2 separate regions of the Homo sapiens genome follow, and region 1 is linked to region 2. A link means that fine-mapping ties the variant in region 2 to the expression of a gene that starts in the linked region. Tissue or cell type: sun-exposed skin. Region 2 holds a variant in brackets; the other region holds the start of a gene. All regions are shown on one strand. Distances are between the middles of the regions. Region 1 holds the start of TARS3 (threonyl-tRNA synthetase 3). Region 2 overlaps TARS3 (threonyl-tRNA synthetase 3).

The links.
Region 1: TARS3 starts here. The variant in region 2 is fine-mapped to the expression of TARS3 in sun-exposed skin (GTEx, PIP above 0.99). The same link has a PIP of 0.9 or more in esophagus mucosa.

The regions. Positions count from the first base shown.
Region 1 is chr15:101,723,389-101,726,298 of GRCh38, reverse strand. It overlaps TARS3 (threonyl-tRNA synthetase 3), which reads left to right and starts at 1,826. Exons shown (of 19, transcript NM_152334.3): 1 at 1,826-2,208. The coding sequence starts at 1,912. RefSeq lists a silencer at 1,541-2,430.
Region 2 is chr15:101,691,238-101,694,147 of GRCh38, reverse strand. The region is part of intron 10 of TARS3 (threonyl-tRNA synthetase 3); the gene reads left to right. Among named protein-coding and RNA genes, the nearest start is that of TARS3, 32 kb to the left of the region's middle. The variant C/T (reference allele first, on the strand shown) is at 1,091.

The DNA of each region.
Region 1 (2,910 bases), 32 kb before region 2:
TCAGGGAAACACTGTAGGGATTCTGCCAGTTTGGAGTATATCTATTCAAACTCTGCATTCTGGAACTGACGAAATAACTACAGTGTGAGTTTGGAAACCCAATGGGCTCACTGGGTATTGTGTGATCCTAGCTAAAACCTGGAAATAACCCAAATTTTCCATCAACAAATGAATAAACAAATTATGGTATATCCATACAATGGAATACTACTCAGAAAAAAAGAACAATAGATACACACAAACATAGGTAAATATCAAAATTATTGTGCCGACTGAAAGTAGCTAAACAAAAGGAGGACATACGGTGTGGTTCCATGTGTAGAAAAATCAAGAAAATGCAAACTAACCTATAGTGACAGGAAGCAGACTGGTGGTTGCCTAGGTATTGGGAATGGAGACCCAAGAGAGACAAATTCCAGAGGGTCCCGAGGAAATTCTGGGGTGGCTTAAGTGGGTCCATGACATTCAGTGATGTGTTGGTCATGACAGAATGGCAGAAGCAGAAACTCCATGGCAGTGGATTGAGAAATGATGAATAATGAGGAGTCAGTGGGTCCTATGTAACTGTATCCAGAGGCTTCCTGAGGAAGGACTAAAAAAGATACAGTGATATTGGTTAGCAACATACTTCATGGAATCTCCTCCTGGGTGCTGTTTGGGATTCCACTTAGCTTAATCCAATGAGCTTGTCCCCCTCCGCTCCTTCTCCTGCACTGATTCTGCTCCTGGAGTGGAATTTACCTGCTTTTCCTCCTTGCTAACATCTCCCAACCTTTATTTTCCAGAGCAAAATAAACCTTTTCCCCTTTCTCAAAATTTTCTCCCTTTCTCAAACCACACCAGTCCAAGCTAAGCTCTTCCACTTCAGGACTCTTATAAGGGCATTATTACCTGTATCACATTATATGACATGCTCAATTAAATTCTGCCAAAGTTGAAAAGTACTAGTGTTAAGTGTGTAGAAACTGGCATCAGACTATCTGAGTTTGATTCCCCCTTTGTCATGTAGTGGCTGTGTGACCTTAGTCAAGTAACACAGTCTCACTGTGCTTCAATTTCTCCAGCTATAAGCGGATATAACAGTATCTCCTGTTATGAAGATTAAAGGAGTTACTACTGTTACAGAGTTTAGAACAGTGTTTGTCACATCCTAAGCCCTAAGAATAGTGATAAAAATCAATTTCTGTTCCTGCTCCAGGAAGTTTCACGCTCATGGTTAAGAGGGATACAAAGATATATGTGGCATTTGCCCTAGACTCAAGGAGCCAGTAATTTCGTGCTGGTCGGATTTAGATTTCACAGCGATTTTCTATATGCCCTGGCCCAGAGGCCTCAGTACTTGGGCAAGTTTGGCACGAAAGGCCAGAAAGTCCATTTATAATGAATGGCCACTTTTTAGAACCTGTTTGCAAGGCAAAAGAATGGTGACTGCCAGAATTCAAGAGGAAGAAAGGGTGAAGCCTTTTTGGAGAACGCAGACGATGGCCTTTTTGCAAGGTTTTGGAAGATTTTCGTTTCAACGGACTAAAAACTACTGCCAATAGCCTCTAGACAGGCCTCGAAAGGCAGGGGAGGCCCTTCAGACCCCATTTCCCCACTGCCCGTGACCCTAAGGTGGGCCTGGCCTCAGGCCCCGCCCCGCCCCGCCCCTGCAGGGTATCTGGCCTCAGGCCCCGCCCCGCCCCGCCCCGCCCCTGCAGGGTATCTGGCCTAGGCCCCGCCCCTCCCCGCCCAGCGCCCCGCCCCTGCAACGTGTAGGCCTCGGCTCCAACGAGGCCCCATGGCTCCGTCCCCGCCCCATCGCCCCGCCCCTCCCGGGAGCCCTGTCTTCTGCCGTGCGCTGAGTGTCCGCGTCGCCCTCGCCGCAGTCGCGGGCACCCCGCTCGGCGTCGGTGCCTGAGGGAGGCCGCGATGGCGGCCGAGGCCCTGGCGGCGGAGGCCGTGGCGTCGCGCCTGGAGCGGCAGGAGGAGGACATCCGCTGGCTGTGGTCGGAGGTCGAGCGCCTGAGGGACGAGCAGCTGAACGCGCCCTACAGCTGCCAGGCGGAGGGGCCGTGCCTCACGCGGGAGGTGGCGCAGCTCCGGGCCGAGAACTGCGACCTGCGCCACCGCCTGTGCAGCCTGCGGCTGTGCCTCGCCGAGGAGCGGAGCCGCCAGGCCACGCTGGAGAGCGCGGAGCTAGAGGCGGCGCAGGAGGCCGGCGCACAGGTAACCGGGCGGTGGGGACACTGGAGAGGACGCGGGCGGGGCGGGCCGAGACGGTGCGCACCGAAAGGTTTTCAACTGCGGGGGCAGGTGCGGGGGCGCCCCGGGGGAGTGCCCTCCCAGTGCCCTGCGGCTGGCCCGCCCTGCCCTGCTCGGTGGTCCCGTGTGGCCTGGGGAGCCGCCGGATTTCCAGCAGTCGCCAGACTTAACCAAATGCTGTTGATTTCTCAATTCGTCCATTAAAGAGCCTGCCACGCATCTTTTTCAGTAGCAGAAATAGTGTTTTCATTTGTTTGAAAAAATGCTGGAGTGTTTAAAACTCATTCTTTCCTTGGTCAGAAAGACTAACAGCTGCGTATGTAAACTCTCATTCCCTCTGGTTCTTTTTTGTTGTTGGGTTTTTTTTGGACGAGAAGTTTTCGCTTTTTGTGCTCTTGTTTTGGTGGTTCATCTTGAGAGGATAGCTGTATATTTAACATTTTTATTTAATACAGTATTTTATGATTTGTAGAAAGGATAAATTATCTTCTTTTAACATCATACTTTCTGAGTCCTGAAGCTTCTCAGGCTGAGATGTTCTGCAGTCCTTTAGGAAGGACAGCTGCGGTGAACTAGCAACATCTTCAGGAAATAGTGCATTTGATGTGGCGGGCAGCAACCACACATTTTCCAGCCACATTATTTGTTTAAAGTTCAGGACAAAAG
Region 2 (2,910 bases):
TGTGGACAACTGATAGTGAATAAATAGATCTTTTTGTTAGTCTCCTTGAATTTTTTTTTCCCTGCATTCTGGAAAATATCTGTCAGCTGATTCTGTACTTTTCTTACCTTTTTTTAAATTAACTTTTTTAATTGTCATGCAGTAAAATGTACGCCTTTTTGATAACATGCAGAACTGTGTTATCACCTCAGCAATCAAGATACAGAACAGTTCCGTCACCCCTCAAAACTCCCTCATGCTACCCTTTTAAAATCAAATCCTCCCCAGCCCTGACCTCAGGGAACGGCTGATTTTTTCTCTACCCCTAAAATATTGGCATATAAATGGAATCATACTTTTATAAAACCTTTAGAGACTGACCGCTTTCACCCAGCATAACACCCTGGAGATGCATCCGAGTTGAGTGTCCCCAGCGGGCCTCTGCTTTTGTCCCTGGGCAGTATTCCATCATATGAACATACCACTGCTTCAGATCCATCCTGCAGTTGAGGGGCATTTGGGTTGTTTTCAGCTTTTGGCAGTTATGAAAACTGCTATTGTCATTCATGTACAGTTTTTTGTATGAACATAGGTTTTCATTTTACTAGAGTAAATACCTAGGAGTGTGATTTCAGGGTCATATGGTGATATGGTTTGGCTGTGTCCACACCCAAATCTCACCTTGAATTGTAGTAATCCCCAAGGGTCAGGGGTGGGGCCAGGCGGAGATAATTGAATCGTGGGGGTGGTTTCCCCCATACTGTTCTTGTGGTGGTGAATAAGTCTCTTGAGATCTGATGATTTTATAAAAGGGAGTTCCCCCGCACAAAGTCCCTTGCCTGCTGCCATTTAAGATGTGCCTTTGCTTCTCCTTTGCCTTCCACCGTGATTGTGAGGCCCCCCCACCAGCCATGCTGAACTGTGAGTCCATTAAACCTCTTTCCTTCATAAATTACCCAGTCTTGGGTTTGTCTTTATTAGCAGTGTGAGAATAGATATGGTAAATTTAAGTTTATAAGAAAATGCCAAACTATTTTCCAAAATGACTACTGTTTTGCATTCCCACCAGCTGTGCATGAGGGTTGCTTTTGTAAAGCTCATCTCAGTCACA[C/T]CTTTTGCATTTCCTGGAATCTGCCTGACTTGTTGATGCATGTCTTGAAACCCTGGAGTGGGGAGGGGAGTGGCTTCTCTTGTTGTTATATTAATAACCCACTTGGGGAATTTTTGCTTCCTCTTCACACAACCTTAGATGGAGTGAATTTCTAGACCAAGCTTGTCTTTGTGAACATGGCAGGCCTCAAAACATTCAGCTCTTCTGCAGGGAGAGTCCTGAAAGATGCACTCCAAGGGTTTAACTGAAGAGAGTCTAGTGAAGGAAGTATTTATGGAGATATGGGCCTGGCTAAGGTAACTAACAAGGGATGATAGAGCGCCCAGGGATTACCAATAGCAAGAATCCCTTCCCCTCCATCACTAGGCCTGCAGAAGTGAGGAGATGGAGTAGTAATACTAGAACCCACAGAGAGCTTGGAGCCATGGAGGAGAGAAGTGAGGAGATGGAGTAGTAATACCAGAACCCACAGAGAGCTTGGAGCCATGGAGGAGAGAAGTGAGGAGATGGAGTAGTAATACCAGAACCCACAGAGAGCTTGGAGCCGTGGAGGAGAGAAGTGAGGAGATGGAGTAGTAATACCAGAACCCACAGAGAGCTTGGAGCCGTGGAGGAGAGAAGTGAGGAGATGGAGTAGTAATACCAGAACCCACAGAGAGCTTGGAGCCGTGGAGGAGAGAAGTGAGGAGATGGAGTAGTAATACCAGAACCCACAGAGAGCTTGGAGCCGTGGAGGAGAGAAGTGAGGAGATGGAGTAGTAATACCAGAACCCACAGAGAGCTTGGAGCCGTGGAGGAGAGGCCACACAACAGAAGCTGTAACTGTGGAACACAGCCAGAACCTGAGTAAACCCACAGCAGGGAGAACCAGGGAAAGAAATATCCAGACCTCTCTCTTCCACTACCCTGTGAATCCTTTGGAACTTCCCATTGGTCAGACCCAATCAGAAACCATATGGAAAGTATATTGGCATGTCAGGATTCTCCACAGAAACAGAACCAACAAGATACATAGAAAAGAAGAGATTTATTATGAGGAATTGGCTTGTGTGATTATGGAGGCCAAGAAATCCCATGATCTGAGGGTCCAAGAAAGTTGGAGATGTAATTCTCGCCTGAGTGCAGAGGCCTGAGAACCAGGGGAGCTGATGAATCTAAAAAAAGGAGAGAGCTCAGGTACATACACAGAGAATTAAACAGTGCTTACCATGGTCAGGGGTTGGGGGGAAGAAATGGGGGGATATAGATCAAAGGATACAAAATAGATATCTAGGATCAACAAGGCCAGAGATCTAATACAGAACATGAGGACTAAAGTTAACAAAATTATATTTATCAGGGAGTTTTGTTAAGTAATTAGATTTTAACTGCTCTTGTCACACACACAAAAAAGGTAACTCTTTTACTATTTGTGTCCTATAACATCATGTTGTGAATCTCAAATATGTGAAATAAAATTTATTGAAGAAAATTTAAAAGGCTGGGCATAGTGACTCACTCTTGTAATCCCAGCACTTTGGGAGGCTGAGAGGGGTGGATCGCTTGAAGCCAGGAGTTCGAGACCAGCCTGGCCAACATGGTGAAACCCTGTGTCTACTAAAAATACAAAAATTAGCCAGGCGTAGTGGTGCACATTTGTGATCTCAGCTACTTGGGAGGCTGAGGCAGGAGAATTGCTTGAACCCAGGAGGTAGAGGCTGCAGTGAGCCAAGATTGTGCCACTGCACTCCAGCCTGGGCAAGAGAGCAACACTCTGTTTCAAAAATATATATATATATATATAAATACTGAGGTAATAGTTCTAAGACTGATACCCATTG